Linked DNA regions of Homo sapiens: region 2 is linked to region 1. A link means that fine-mapping ties the variant in region 1 to the expression of a gene that starts in the linked region. Tissue or cell type: whole blood. Region 1 holds a variant in brackets; the other region holds the start of a gene. All regions are shown on one strand. Distances are between the middles of the regions.

What was found. PIP is the estimated chance that this variant, and not a neighbour inherited with it, causes the effect.
Region 2: it holds the start of RCBTB1, and the variant in region 1 is fine-mapped to the expression of RCBTB1 in whole blood (INTERVAL, PIP above 0.99). The same link has a PIP of 0.9 or more in monocytes.

Annotation. Positions count from the first base shown.
Region 1 is chr13:49,522,122-49,530,227 of GRCh38, reverse strand. It overlaps SETDB2-PHF11 (SETDB2-PHF11 readthrough), which reads right to left. Exons shown (of 21, transcript NR_135324.2): 17 at 6,987-7,053; 18 at 6,012-6,143; 19 at 4,291-4,455; 20 at 3,770-3,841; 21 at 1,252-1,717. PHF11 (PHD finger protein 11) reads right to left here. Exons shown (of 10, transcript NM_001040443.3): 7 at 6,987-7,053; 8 at 6,012-6,143; 9 at 3,770-3,841; 10 at 1,252-1,717. The coding sequence ends at 1,563. Among named protein-coding and RNA genes, the nearest start is that of PHF11, 30 kb to the right of the region's middle. The variant A/T (reference allele first, on the strand shown) is at 4,274.
Region 2 is chr13:49,582,107-49,590,212 of GRCh38, reverse strand. RCBTB1 (RCC1 and BTB domain containing protein 1) reads left to right here and starts at 4,655. Exons shown (of 13, transcript NM_018191.4): 1 at 4,655-4,769. RefSeq lists a silencer at 4,422-5,131.

The sequences.
Region 1 (8,106 bases):
GCTTCACATTTTACTTACTTGTCCATATTTTGTCCCATAAGGTAGGCAGCAGCATTCTCAGATTAAATAATCGGATTCAAGTTTTTCAGTAGTGACATAGCTGAAGTTCATACTCGGCTCCGCCTTATGAACCCATACTCGGGTTTGCCCAGTAGCCAGCCTCATGGCCACCAAACACATGGTGCTCCATGGTGCACAGTTACATGCTGTGTGAGTCACAGGTTAAACGTGAAAGTAAAGTGGGGGACAAAGGTTTTTTTTTTTAAATAAAGATCATGACATCAGAATGATTAGTCAGATAAACTTTGCTAAGATGGCTGGGCGTGGTGGCTCACGCCTGTAATCCCAGCACTTTGGGAGGCCGAGGCAGGCAGATCACGAGGTCAAGAGATCGAGACCATCCTGGCCAACATGGTGAAACCCCATCTCTACTAAAAATACAAAAATTAGCTGGGCATGGTGGTGCGCGCCTGTAGTCCCAGCTACTTGGGAGGCTGAGGCAGGAGAATCGCTTGAACCTAGGAGGCAGAGGTTGCAGTGAGCCGAGATCACACCACTGCACTCCAGCCTGGCAACAAAGTGAGACTCCGTCTTAAACAAAACAAAACAACAACCAAAAACTTTGCTAAGACTTAATATCAGGATAGGAAGCTGAAGCTACAGTAATCAATAATCATCTAGACTAGCGGAAATCTGTTCAGAGGGTGTTGGATGGGGTCTTCACTTCTGTAGTTTTTAAAGTGCCCCACATGATTCTGATGTGCGGCCGGATTTGAAATCCACTGGTTTAGATTTTGTCCCTAAGATATAAGAACTTAGGCTAGGGCTGCCATTACAACTGGAATGGACTGTTCTTTTTCATCTCCTGCAAATATTTTTCCAGTACTTATTTATTACATGTCAGACACCATGCTTGGAGACTCAGTTAAAACCCATTTTGAGACGCAGCATTATTGAAAATCAGAGTACCATGGTAAAAAATGAGAACTGTGAATGTTAAGTTTTCAGGGGTCAGACGTGATAGTGTGGGCATAAAAACCAGAATCGTATATTAGATTGAGAAAAATGTAACTGTCAATTTTTTTTTTCATTCTTGCATACTCCCGATAATGTTCTTATTCAGAGTCCAATTTAAAATTTAGGTGTCTGTTTTGAAGATGATGAATCTCCACGTGATAACTGTGGCTGAAAAGAGACTTTTCAAAAGCAGACTTTGTGACACGAAAACAGGCAAATTTGGTACAAGTAAAGTAGTATAATCCAAATTTATTATATCTAAGAGGCTATCATGGGCTGTAAGTAGAATCAAAGGTTAAGAACATTTTATGCACTTATTCCACAAACATTTACTGAGCATACTAGGTGCTGGGAATGTGACAGTGAGCAAAAAACACAAGAGTGTGCAAAGAGTGATCAAAATGTCAACCAGTAAGAACAGGGAAGAGCTGCTGAGGCCAAGAGGAGACGACTAGTTCTAAAGATGTGTGGATTTCACAGCCTGGTCTCTGGTTTTGAGCCTGATTGCAATTTGACATGACTCTTGGCTTAGGAAACGGTAATCCCTAATAAGACAGGGATGATATTGATGTAGAACTTGACATAAGATCTCTATTTTCTTGAAAAGAGCACAAGGTTTGTTTTAAGTCCTGAAGTAGCTCAATCTCTTCCTTCAACTGCTGCCACCTTTGTTGAGATGCATGAATTTTTTTCTCTATTGCTATGAAAAGAAGAAATAAAATTATTTCAGCTTATTCAGTAGTTTTATTAGAAATAATGTACCATTTCTAGCCCCTTTCACTTGCAGGTACAGATACACAATCCTCGTGCCTCTGGTGAAAAGGATCCAGAGCCTTATGGGCAGGAGCTGGTTTCTTTATGCCTTCACTTCCTCCTTCTAATTCAGGACAGAATTCTAACATTTATCATACACAAAGCTGTTCAGTAAACCCTTAAGATTTTGTGCACATTTATAGCAGAACAAGTCCCTTTGTATATCTTTGAGAACTTGAAAACAGTGACTGTATAACCTTCATGCTATACTATATCCATTTATTGAGAGATGATAATTGGAGAATGTGGCTAGAATACCAAGGTTAAGGACAAATCCTTCCTAAAAATGTGTCCAATTTTTAATGTTACATAAAGGCTTTTGGTTTCATTTAGAAATAGGAAGGCTTTTAATTGTGGAAACTTAGAAAAGCTTAGGAGGAAGATACTTAGGCTTTATAAATAACAAATAGTAGTCAATGGCAATGTAATTTTTAAAAGCCTCAAAATCGAACAGTTACACACATATACAAACTTTATTCAGAATAACTGCATACGTATAGTTAACTTAAAATATGAGTAAGGCTAAATTAAGCAAGTTTTTATCAACCAGGGTAGTGAAACCCAACTTAAGCCTTTTAAGTTGAATCTCATGCAGTTCTAAGTAGTGGCACCCCCGCCATACTACACTATAATATATGTACTCCCACCTAATCCATCCAAGTAGTGATGTGTGACATGTTCCCTTACATGAAAGAAAAACACACATGGAAGTCCCCTACAAAATAACTCTTTTTAGAAAAAAATTTTTAAGGCTGCTTTAAAAAAATATGGATACTGCTATATATTAGCAGACATCCTCAAAAGACTATTAAGACAGACACTCTTTTTGGTAGATTTTTCAAAGTATTTTTCCTGCTGGTTATAAATGTAGTAAAAAATTCAAATAGAAATGTATAATATAGAAGCCAAAATGAGAAAGGTTGTGTATGTTGAGACAGGGATATGAACTAATGATTTCTTCACAGGGAAATCTTATTGTCTTCCTACCATATGCTGGAGAGACAGATGCATCTGTGGAAATGCAGAGTGTGGAGGGCACTCACTCTGTTGTGCAACTTCAGGGGGAGCCATCCACCAATGCTGTTTGACTCTGTGCCCGGCCTGCCCAGCTGTGTGTGGCAGCCTTGATAGAGAAGTCAGACCAGACTCATAAACAAGTGGAGGTGTAGCCTGTCTTGAGGGCATCTTAATGCTGAAAGGAGGACTCACTCAATAAATGGTTGATATTTAATAGGAAGGTTAAATCTCCCTCCTCCAAACCAAACGAGATTTTCTACTGCAAACATTTCTTGGCTATTCTTACTTGCTCATTTTTTGTTTGTTTGTTTTTGTTTTTTTTTTTTCTGATGAACTTTAAATCAGTCGTAACCCTCCCTGATAAGAAATTAAATTAGATTTGAGGATTAATAGTGGGAGAATTAAAATTTTGACCTATCTCACCAAGCGAGAGGGAGGCAAGCGGAGGGATGGTTTATCATAGCCTCGCCACCCAAGAGCAGAGAAGCCGCAGGAAGCTTTACCAGCTCCTGCCTGGGCCACACACAGGCCAAAATATGCTCCAATTTTTGAATCAATTTTTTGTTGTCTCTACTTTTTTAATGAGTTTTTCTCATTATAAAAGTATTTGTGTGTATATAGAAAATCTGGAAAATATAGCAGTAAAAGAACAGACAAAAATCACTATATTCCAACTACCTACAACCAACTACTGTCTCCACCAGGTGCAGCTTTTGTCTGTGCACATGTACCTCGATATTTTTTTCCTGTGTGTGTGGGCAGGTGGGCGGGGTCATACTGTTTTTGTAATTGGCTTTTCTCATTTAAGAAAACAATGAACATTCTTCTAAAATATTTTTATCACCTGTACAGTATATTGTTTCAATATCGTGATAAATATTTCTCAAAACTATGCTGCTCAGATGTTATATAACTCATATACCTGCTTGAAAATTTACAAATGTGTCTTCGAACAATCTACAGTCAAAAAGTGCACTCCCGATTTCTTCATAGTCTGGAGGGAGAGAAACATTTTCAATATTAAACAGTTTGTATAGGCAGAAACTCCTCCATTTATATATGTAATCCAAAACAGGGGAAAGGAAAGAGAGCAGTCATGTGCCATGGAACTTTAATGTTAGATGGCAACAGCAGCAGCAGCACTACAGGGAAGCTGTCAGAAATGTAATTCTTGGCATTTCTCTTTTTTCTTTTTTTTTTTTTTTTTTTTTTGAGACAGAATCTCACCCTGTTGCCCAGACTGGAGTGCAGTGGTGCGATCTTGGCTCACTGCAACCTCTGCCTCCTGGGTTCAAGCGATTCTCATGTCTCAGCCTCCCAAGTAGTTGGGATTGCAGGCGCGCACCGCCACGCCCGGCTAATTTTTGTATTTTTAGTAGAGACAGGGTTTTGCCATGTTGGCCAGGCTGGTCTCGAACTGCTGACC[A/T]CAGATGATCCACTCACCTCGGGCTCCCAAAGTGCTGGGATTACAGGCGTGAGCCACCGCGCCTGGCCCCCAATTCTTGGTATTTGTACTGAATCAGAATCTCTGTGGGATAGGCCCAGCTATCTGTGTCCTCACCAGCCCTACAGGTGGTTCTCAGGCACACTGTTTGGGAAGTGCTTGGTCTAGAGGAAATAAATGAATAAAATAGTATAATAAATGAGCTTTTGGAAATGCTTACTATTTATTTCACTTTTTGGTTTTGCCCTATAGAAAATAATCCCATTCAAATAAACATTTTTTATATTGTTGCCTACAATATAAGCTGTCCAGCTTGTCCTTGTAAAATAACTATATTTATAATAAAGGTTTTAAACTCATGGGATATAAGTTATAAGAAAGCTAAGTAAGGCTGGGCACAGTGACTCACACCTGTAATCCCCGCACTTTGGGAGGCCAAGGCGGGCAGATCACATGAGATCAGGAGTTCAAGACCAGCCTGGCCAACATGGTGAAACTCCATCTCTACTAAAAATACAAAAATTAGCCGAGTGTGTTGGCACATGTCTGTAATCTTAGCTACTCTGGAGACTAAGGCAAGAGAATCACTTAAACCCTGGAGGCAGAGGTTGCAATGAGCTGAGATCATGCCACTGCACTTCAGCCTGGGAGAGAGAGCGAGACTCTGCCTCAAAAACAAACAAACAAAAAGCTAAGTAGCTATATACCTGCACATACAAATGGAACTTTGACTTCCCAAAGAGCCCTTAAGAAAGAAACTTCTTTAACAAAGTACATCTTTAAACCAAACATCAGTCAAAACATTAAAATTCCTTCTTCTATACTTTAAAGTTTGAGTTAACCTTATTTAAAAAAGGACACTTGGCTTATTAAGGAATAGAATTGGATTCCAAAATCAAAACTGTAACATAACACTGTTCTCAGATCTTAGCAACAGGAATGCAGGGCGGTGGCAGGGGAGCATATGTGACCGAATCAATCTCTGAATGGCACATTCTCTTAGTGGCCAACCTGTTAGACACCTCTGGAAAATGTACCACAACTCTCAGGGCATGAGGTTACTTTTGACTAAATTACTGAGTTTGTAAATTACCCACATCCTGTTGATTTATGAAGGATAGTAGATCTGGTCCAATTATTTTATTAAAGAATGAGGTAAAGGGCCAGGCATGGTGGCTCATGCCTGTAATCCAAGCACTTTGGGAGGCCGAGGTGGACGGATCACCTGAGGTCAGGAGTTCAAGACCAGCCTGGCCAACATGGTGAAACCTTGTCTCTACTAAAAATACAGAAAATTAGCCAGGCGTAGTGGCGTGTGCCTGAAATCCCAGCTACTCAGGAGGCTGAGACAGGAAAATCGCTTGAACTTGGGAGGCAGAGGCTGCAGTGAGGCAAGATCGCACCACTGCACTCTAGCCTGGGCAACAAGGGCGAAACTCCGTCTTAAAAAAAAAAAAAAGAATGAGGTAAAGGTAAAGAATGACAAGCTGGACAGCTTATATTGTAGGCAACAATATAAAAAATGTTTATTTGAATGGGATTATTTTCTATAGGGCAAAACCAAAAAGTGAAATAAATAGTAAGCATTTCCAAAAGCTGATAGAAGAAAAAAGTAGTATAGGAAGAAAATGGGCCTTTTTTTTTTTCTTGGGTTTGTTTTGTTTTAAATCTAGATCTGGGAGAAGTCTCTATACTTCGAAATATTGCTCTTCATCAGTACCTGATTCTGAAGTAGTCTCATCCATGAGTTTTTCTGGAATTGAATGAACTTTGTCTAATATTTCTTCAAGTAAGTAATTAAGAAGTCCTGCTTCCTTGCATTTCTTAAGAAAAGGAACTTTCACAGTTGCATCTAAGAATAAGACAAACATTTGAGAAGGAAATAGTCTTAGGGCAGCTAATCATAAATTACTTTATGCTTATTTCTTCAGACCTTGCCTAGTGGTGGATGCACATACTTAGTAAAATAATACAGCACCTTCACCCTTTTTATTAATTATAATTTCATCATACCTCATTTTTTTTGGCCAGCTGAAACAATGAATAAAATGTTACAAAAAGTAAAAATGAAAATTTCTCTGCTTACAATAACTATATGAATTAAGAGGCTTTTTTAAACATATAAAACTGTAACTTTTTAAATTTCAATACCTTTTGGGGAACAGGTGGTTTCAGGTTACATGGATAAGTTCTTCAGTGGTGATTTCTGAGATGTTGGTGCACCTGTCACCTGAGCAGTGTACACTGTACCCGATATGTAGTTGAATTAAGAGGATTTTTAAAAATTACCCTTAAGTCTTTGACATAACAGCCCCTGTCACTTCTTGTCACAGTTTGTATGTGTTGTTAGTGGAATGTCTATTTCTTTAAAGAACAGAGAACTACAGTTACAGGGGTCACAGTGTGAGGGGTGACACATTGCTGGATTCTGAGCTCAGGCAAGCCTGTCTGTGTCTTTATTAATAGAAGTCTATCTTTTCTTAATACTGAATGCAATGGACCATTCCAACCTAAGTTATCTTGATATGCTGGGATTACAATAGAGTGGACAGTTGCGATAAAGATTTATACTCATTAATTACCACAAGCCTAGAAGAATAAAGATTTAGGCGGGATACCAAGTTTGAAACAGGTGGGTTGACATTTTTATAAGTATTGTAGGCCATATTTGTTACAGACAACACTTAGCGCAAACCTGTGTGTCTGCCATGCTCTTCTTTCACTTGTCTTATGAATGTATTACATTTCATTGTTTCGGGTGGCTAGGAGAGAAAATCAAGATTGCATTACATTGATTTTAATATTGCATAAAATGAAAACCAGTCTTTTGCTGTGCATAACTAAATGATATGCCTACAGTAAAAATCATGCCCTGGCTGGGCGCGGTGTCTCACGCCTGTAATCTCAGCACTTTGGGAGGGCAAGATGGGCAGATCACAAGGTCAGGAGTTCGAGACCAGCCTGGACAACAGGGTGAAACCTTGTTGCTACTAAAAATACAAAAATTAGCCAGGCGTGGTGGTGCATGCCTGTAATCCCAGCTACTCAGGAGGCTGGGGCAGGAGAATCACTTGAATCCAGGAGGCAGAGGTTGCAGTGAGCTTAGATCACACCATTGCACTCCATCCTGGGTGACAGAGAGAGACTCTGTCTCAAAAAAAAAAAAAAACAAAAAAACCCCATATTCATATTTAGATGTAAACATCAAATATATTTTTGTTTTGTATTATAAAACATTAAGAGGTGTTTGACAAGCACCCCTTGTATAAACAGGAGGAGGTGAAGGTTGCTGGCGCATATGAATTTAGCTTATATGTGCTGATGTGTAAAAACTCAAATCCCCAAAATATTTTCATACATTTTATACATAATCCAGAAATTTATAAGAGCTACAGATTTGGTCAGGTGTGGGTCATGCAGCTGGGAAATACTTGGCTCCATAAGGATGTTTGACTGCACCCTCTGCCCGTTTTAACTGTAAGCACCTGTGGGGTCAGATGCTCTCACTAGTTTGGTGCCAGGGAATTTATAGGAGCTCGGAGAATGTCACCTCCTGAAGGTTATGTGCTTGGAACTTCCAGCTTCATTTTCATGCTCATCTCATCATGATTCTATCATCTAGGAATTATCTAAGAGCTTCCCGACTATGGGATTCTTCCTAAAAAGGCAACCTCAGGAGCAGCCTTAGCTGAGAACACAAATGAAGAATGTTCTTCAAAGGCTCTCTGTTTGGACGATTTGGAAAGTACCTTTCACCTGACATTCAGACTGGTTTAAATAAGGACTCTGTATGAAGAAATGCAAAGCTATAAAAA
Region 2 (8,106 bases), 60 kb before region 1:
GACTGAGCCGCCCAAGTAGCTGGGATTACAGGTGCCTGCCACCACGCTGGGCTAACGTTTTAAAATATTTTTAGTAGAGATGGAGTTTCACCATGTTGGCCAGCCTAGTTTCGAACTCCTGACCTCAAGTGATCTGCCTACCTTGGCCTCCCAAAGTGTTATGATTACAGGTGTGAGCCACCGTGCCTGGCCTTCCCCCTAAATTTAACTTTTTGAGGAAACCAAGGCTAGAAAGGTTCTTGTCCGCTATTATGTATTTCTCTGATTGTTTCCTCATAAAGTCACTGAGTTTGTCCCAGGTAACTTCACCTTTAATATTCCAAATGAGTGAGTCAAGCCCCATCTGAGAATATTCTTACTACCTCCATCATCATCCCAGGGTCACTCTAAGAAGTCTTCAAGATGCATGTTAACATTCAGAGGACCAGTCCTGCTTCATAGTCAATTGCAGTCAGAACTTCTATGTCTCAGAAGACTAGAGACTGCGTATCTCCCACCAGAAGTTGGTGACCTCCTAATAAGCCATGGTGCTACCACAGCTAAATGCAGGTGGAACAAGGACCACTGCTAATGAATAAAAAATAAACATTTCACCATCAACTGACATGGACAGTGAAGAAATTCCATAATTAAGAAGCTCTCTTGGGCTGGGTACAGTGGCTCACACCTGTAATCCCAGCACTTTGGGATGCTGAGGTGGGAGGATCCGTTGGGTTCAGGAGTTCAAGACCAGCCTGGACAAAATAGTGAGATCCTGTGTCTACAAACAATAAACAGAAGTAGCCAGGTGTGGTGGTATGCATCTGTAGTCCTAGCTACTCGGGCGGCTGAGGTGGGAAGGTCGCTTAAGTCCAGGACGTGGAGACTGCAGTGAGCTGAGATCATGACACTGCACTCCAGCCTGGGTGACAGGGCGAGACCCTGTGTCAAAAAATAAAAATAAAAAAATAAAAAAGCTATTTTGCCTGCCAAAGGACAAAGAAGCAATTTTATTCATTTTTTATTTTTATTTTATTTTTGAGATGGACTCTTACTCTGTTGCCCAGGCTGGAGTGCAGTGGCATGATCTCGACTCACTGCAATCTCTGCTTCCAGGGTTCAAGTGATTCTCCCACCTCAGCCTCCTGAGTAGCTGGGATTACAGGTGCCCACCACCACACCCAGCTAACTTTTGTATTTTTAGTAGAGACAGGGTTTCACCAGGTTGGCCAGGCTGGTTTCAAACTCCTGACCTCAAGTGATCTACCTGCCTTGGCCTCCCAAAGTGCTGGGATTACAGGCGTGAGCCACCATGTCCGGACAAACCTTATGATATTTTATTAGGTTCTTGACAGGTACTTTTCCCAACGTAATCATGTGTTAGCATTAAGTGGAGTGGTTCTCCCTTTTCACATGCTGGAGGTTAAGCCCAGTTTCTGTCTTAAAGTACTACCTGTTAATTGAATTATTTTGCTCTAAAGGAAAGGTTTGGAGTGCTCTAAAATAATCTTCTTTGGGGCCAGGCATGGTGGCTCACACCTGTAATCTTGGCACTTTGAGAGACTGAGGTAGGCAAACTGCTTGAGCTCAGGAGTTCGAGACCAGGCTGGCCAACATGGCAAACCCCGTCTCCACAGAAAATATAAATTAGCCCAGCCTGATGGCCCTCACCTGTGGTCCTAGCTACTCAGGAGGCTGAGGTGCTGAGGTGGGAAGATCACTTGAGCCCATGGAGGTTGAAGCTGCAGTGAGTTATGATCATGCCACTGCAGTACAGCTTGAGCAACAGAGCAAGACGCTGTCTCAAAAAATAAAAAAAATCATCTTCTTTGGAACAAGTAATTTTGGTATTTTTACATAATAATCATAGAAAGCTTTTGAGGCTGGAAAAAAAGGTAAAAAATCACCTCGCGTTAGTCCAAGCCAGTTTTATTCTTATTTATTTATAGGGACAGCGTCTTGCTATGTTGTCCAGGCTGGTCTTGAACTCCTGGGCTCAAGCAATCCACCTACCTTGGCCTCCCAAAGCATTGGGATTATAGGCGTGACCCACTGTGCCTGGCCTAGGCCAATTTTAGATGCAGAGCCTATGATGTGCCTGATAGAAAGTTATTCAATACAATAAATAACACCAATACCAGTAAATATGTCATTCTTTCAAGTATATTAAAATTAACCTAATTTGGTTTCCTTTATCCTAGATGTGAATGAAGTCATCAAGGCATCAATATAGGGTTACTTGTTTTTGTTTTTTTGAGACAGAGTCTCACTCTGTCACCCAGGCTGGAATGCAGTGATGCGATCTTGGCTCACTACAACCTCTGCCTCCTGGGTTCAAGTGATTTTTGTGCCTCAGCCTCTCAAGTAGCTGGGATTACAGGCACGTGCCACCACAGCTGGCTAATTTTTGTATTTCTAGTAGAGACAGGGTTTTCCAAAGTTGGCCAGGCTGGTCTTGAACTCTTGACCTCAAGTGATTTGCCTGCCTTGGCCTGGGATTACAGGCATGAGCCACTGCACCTACCTGTTTGTTTTTTCCTAAACAAATAGTACTGTTTCATGTGTCACTACTTTTGAACACATTGCTCTCTCCTGGAATGTCTTTTTCTTTCTTCTTATCTACTTCCTGTCCAACTGACCTTCTCATGAAGTTTCTCCCTGACTCCCTGATTTGTGGTCCCTGGTTTGTGTTCACTTAGCACCTTGTATCATAATACTTTTCACCCTGTACTGGAATAATGAACCAGACTACACATTCCTTATCAGCAACCATGTCTCATTCAGCTTTTAATCCTCCAAGATGCTCCAAGTATGGCATCTGACACATAAGCAGTGAGGGCTCAGGACATATTTGATTGCTCACACCCCATGCCCTCGTTTTTCTCTCAGACATGTTTACACAAGTTCTTTTGATCGGGTTGCAACCAAAAGAAACTGATTTTAGTTTCTTTGAGCAAAACAGGCCTCTTCTAGTAAATTCACTCAACTGCCACTACTTTGGGCAAGCCACTTCATTCAGTGAGTATTAAGGGTCTATCACATGCCAGGCGCTGTTCTAAACCCAGAAGAATCCTGTTTCAAAGAGTTTATAATCTAAGGGAGAAGACAGCAATAGACAATTCACCTTTTACAGGAAATGCGCAGTCTATTTCTGGGCAGTGTGAGGTGTATCAGAATATATATAGTATTCTGGAAATCAGGGAAGAAGTTGCAGCTGACACTGTCTGGATGAACTTCAATTGCTAAAAAATCAGGGAAGAGGATGCTGGGAAGACAAGAGTAGGCGGCATTTGACCTGGATTTTGAAAGATGAGTAGGAAACTGATGTGTACTTTGGAGGCTGTTGAAGAAAACCAGAGCCAAACAGTAGTTGAAGTGGTAAAAACATTTTATTCAGGAACTAGTGCAACAGGAGCGAGACCTCAGAATAGATACAGAACTAAGCTCAATTCTCTTATTGCATTAGTTTCTTAATACCTTTTTTTTTTTTTTTAATCATTGGCCCTGGTTTTCTTTAAGTGGGGGAGGTGGTGATTCAGGACATTTCAGATACAGACAAAAGAATGAACAAAGCAAAAAGGAGTAAAGAAACTTAGAGAAAAAGTAAATAATCCAAAGAAAGTTGAGTAGTCAAGGAAAACAAATTATTTGTAGCCAGAGCCTCCAGTAATGTTGGGGAAGTGGCAAGAGATGAGGGACGGTAGGACTTTTTTAATAATTCAAGTTACCAAAAGTGAAGTTATCTGGTGATATTTAGAAAATGAAATGTTTTTCTGTTTATTCCTAGGAGCTCAAATGGGAAAGGTAAGTGAACAAGTGGCTGGAATGCTATGCCAACAAGTTTGGATTTTATCCTGCAGCGCCAACTGGGAGTTCTCCGAGAGCTGTATGGTATTTTACAAAGGGACTGTAGTCTTTATAGGTGATAGGCTGGAGCAGCTCGTAGCAGTCCCTCTCCTGGCCTCAGTTTACTCGCTGGTAACACGAATCCGGTTGGACCAGATGCCCTCTTAGGTCCCGTCTAACCTCTATGGCATGCTTCCGAGGTACCTCTGCCTCTTTCCAATACCAGGACCTGTGCCTCATCTCGTCCTTCCTTCATACCTTTGTCCAGCTGCCACCTTCCCTAGTCCCTGGCCTGCCTCAGGTACTTTCAATCAGGAAGTGAGGGGCGGGGAGGGAGGGAGGCGCGTCTCCAGTAAAAACAAACTAGTCCCAGCTCCGCCGCCTTTCCTCCCAGGCAGCACCACCTGGGTGGTGCCCCGGGGCCAGACGCGCTCTAGAGTGGGCAGGGAGCCAAGTTTCTCGGTCGCTTTTCCGTCCTAGGTCTCTGGGGTGGTAGGCCGACCCTCCCCACAGCCAAGCCATCTCGGGGAGCAGAGCAGGAGCCCGTGCCTCGCGCGTTCCTGGTTCCTCAGACACAAAAGCCTCTAAGTCCCGGCAGCAGCCACCGGATTTCATGGGGACACTCCAGTGGCAGGGCCTCGGGGCGGGCCTGAGACGGCCAATCGGCTTCTAAAGAAGTCGGGTTGTAGGGCCCGAAGAGCAGGGTTTCGGCCGGGGCCGGGGCCGGGGCGGTGCGGGATGCTCGGCTGGGTAGCGTCCCGGGCGCGCGCTGCACCGGGTCACGTGAGGCGGCCGGGGCCACGTGACCCGGCGGGCCCGGCGCCCTGGCGCTCCTCCTCTTCGCTGCCGGTGGGCACCGCCGCTCGCTCGCACTTCTGCGCCCATTGGAGCTTCGGAGATCCCTGCGGTCCCGCGGGACGGCGCGGCAGCAGCTGACCTCGCAGGTAGCGTGTGGGCGCGGGGTCGAGCTCGCGGAGGCCTCTTCCCCCTCGGCCCTGCCCCTGCTTCCCTTCCCCGCAGGCCGGGCCGGGAGTGCCCCGTTACTCCTGTACCTCCCGCCTCCCTCGCTCGGGCTCCCGGGCAGTCCCTGCGGGCGCTGCGTCCGGGGCGAGGGATGGGGTCCCCGGCCCGGCCCCGCCAGCACCTCAGCTAATGTGCTCTCCTGCGAGGAGGAGGGAAGGATGGGGAGAGGCGAGGGAAAGTTTTCCCTGCCTCCCTCTCTTTTTTGAGGTGCACGGACTCGATTTTGCTCGTAGCTGAAGTCTGACTGCTGTGGGTGCCGTTTTACTGAGAGGAGATCTCCCCTCCGACTCTTCCTATTCTCTCTCCTTTCCAAGATCTTAGCATCTCTCCTTCGTCTCCTGAGAGTAGTGCTGTCACAAACCGTATTCTTTATCGTTTCCCTTTCCGACACAGAATCCACAAAGGCAGGGATTTTGTTAGTGAGGACTTTTATCCAGGCGTGCGGTGAACTCTAAATAAGTGACGTTTCCCTTGTCTGCCTCTGATAAAGTACCTACCTGCTCGGTTTAAGATGACTATCGAGCACGCTGTGTTCTGCTCGCATAAGTGGCCTTTTGTTTTTATTTATTTGCATGTAAGACACTTTCAAGCCATCTGCGGAACTCTGCAGCTGGGGATTACAATTTTATAAAGCAGTCTTGTAATAATGCTTTTAGAAAACCAGATTCATGATCTTCCTTGCTTTTGCCCTATTCTTTTTTTGGGAGGACTAAAAGCCCTTAGAGGACAAAAACTGAGTTTCTGAAACTGGTGTGTATTGTGGGCTAATAACATTAAAACATCAAAGTATATAATGCCGGAAGGAATGGAAAAATGATTGAATCCTGAGGGCAGTTTATAGGTGCTTTAAACTTTAGAGTACTCATTTCAAGTGAGCACTGGGTGAATTTCACCCGTTTAAACTGCTTTCAGGGTCGAGGATGTAACTGTATATTTGGATTCTATTAATATAACAGTTCATCTGTGGGATGGACTTTAATCCATTTAATCCATTGTGTGAATATCAGTCTATTTATTAATACTCTAGACGGGTCCTTTTTCTTCTACCCGCTAGTCTGTTTCTCTTGAAGAGGAAGCATATTCATCTTTAAAGAGATTTTTGCAAGTGATTTTTTTAAGTGTGTGATCCAAATGATAAAGTTCTGTGAACTTCAGAAAACAAGTAGCCATAAAAACCCAAAGCTGTCAAGCTTGTAGCTTTTAAAAAATGATTTGAAAATTTTAAAGCGTGCCCGTATGCTGCAGCAAGAACTTGGCTCCACCTAATATACGGGAGCTGGGAAGTCTGAAACAGTACCCTCCTTTTCCTGGGAGTCATTGTGGGGTAGATGAAACTGTGAAGGAAAGTGAGGACCTTTATTATGATGATGATATCCCTTCTGTGTGTACTACATTAAACAGTAAGTCATGCATAGGAAAGGAGGCTGGGGCCTCACAGAGTCTAGAATCTAGGCAGGGCATTCGGACACATTTCAAAATATTCTCTGGTTTTACAAAAAGTTAAAAATGTTACATATTGGCCAGGCGCAGTGGCTTACATCTGTAATCCCAGCATTTTGGGAGATTGAGGCGACAGATTACACGAGGCCAGGAGTTCAAGACCAGCTTGGCCAACATGGTGAAACCCCGTCTCTACTAAAAATACAAAAAATTAGCTGGGCGTGGTGGTGTGCGCCTGTAGTCCCAGCTACTCAGGAGGCTGAGGTACGAGAATTACCTGACCTGGGGAGGCAGAGGTTGCAGTGAGCCGAGATTGTGCCACTGCACTCCAGCCTGGGCGACACAGTGAGACTCCATCTCAAAAAAAAAAAGTACATGTTGTGTACGTGCTGAAGAATGCACAAGAGGGGTATGATGAGTGTTGTCTGAATTTAGCCAGAATAGACTTAGTAGAGGAGATCAGTTAATGAAATAATTATATAAGTCAACTGTGTGTTAGATCACATTTAAAACACACACACACACACACACACACACATACACAAAAGCACACTTCTTTCCTGGGGTAGAAAAGCTCACAGAGGAGACCAGATGGGTACCTCTAAAGACTTACGGTCTCCAGCTTTCTCTGGGCTTGGTCTTACCATCCTGCTAGGTTTCTCTGCTCAGTGCTCTTTCCCATCCTCCCTGGTGACTGCTTCAGACTTCACCATTTTACCCCCAATTGCTCCACTCCACTTTTTTCTTTTTGAGACAGGGTCTCACTATGTCGCCCAGTCTGGAGTACAGTGTGCCATGTGATCATAGCTCACTGCAGCCTCAAACTCCCAGGCTCAAGTGATCCTCCCCACTCCCAAGTAGCTGGGACCACAGGTGCGCACCACCACATTCGACTAATTTTTTTATTTTTTGTAGAGACAGGGTCTCCCTATGTTGCCCAGGCTGGTCTTGAACACCTAGCCTCAAGCAGTCCTCCCGCCTTGGCCTCCCAAAATGTTGGGATTACAGGCGTGAGCAACCACACCCGGCCTCCACTCCACTGTTTATTGCTACCTCCCCTCTTACTCTTAGCAAAAAGCCTAACTCTTTCTTCATAGGGGAAAAATAGGTGACCTCAGAAGAGAATGGTCTCCAAATGCCAATCAAAACCATGAGATACCACCTCCCATCCACTAGGATGGGTATAATACAAAAGACAGTAAATACTGGAGAAAGCAGCACTGTTGTACATTGCCGGTGGGCATGTAAAATGGAGACTCAGCGGGGAGAGAGAATGAGAATGAGAGAATGAGTATGTCTCCAGCATCTGGATTCCTAACCTTTAAACTGGCTTTCATTCACATTCACCCTTTCCTCCTCCTCTTGTGGAAGGAAGAAAAGGAAGACTTGCTCCTTTCTACAGTTTCTCTTGCATTTATTTATTTATTTATTTATTTAGAGACAGAATTTTGCTTTTGTTGCCCAGGCTGGAGTGCAGTGGTGTGATCTTGGCTCACTGCAACCTCCGTCTCCCGAGTTCAAGCGATTCTCCTGCCTCAGGGTCCTGAGTAGCTGCGATTACAGGCACCCACCACTATGCCCAGCTAATTTTTGTATTTTTAATAGAGATGGGGTTTCACCATGTTGGCCAGGCCGGTCTCGAACTCCTGACATCAGATGATCCACCTGCCTCGGCCTCCCAAAGTGCTGGGATTACAGGCATGAGCCACTGCGCCCGGCGCTTCTGTTGCACTTCTGCTTCAGATCCCATTCCCTGCTACTTTCTTAAGGCCCATTGAGTTGTTACATCCTCTCCTCTTTGATGTTTCTACTGGCTCC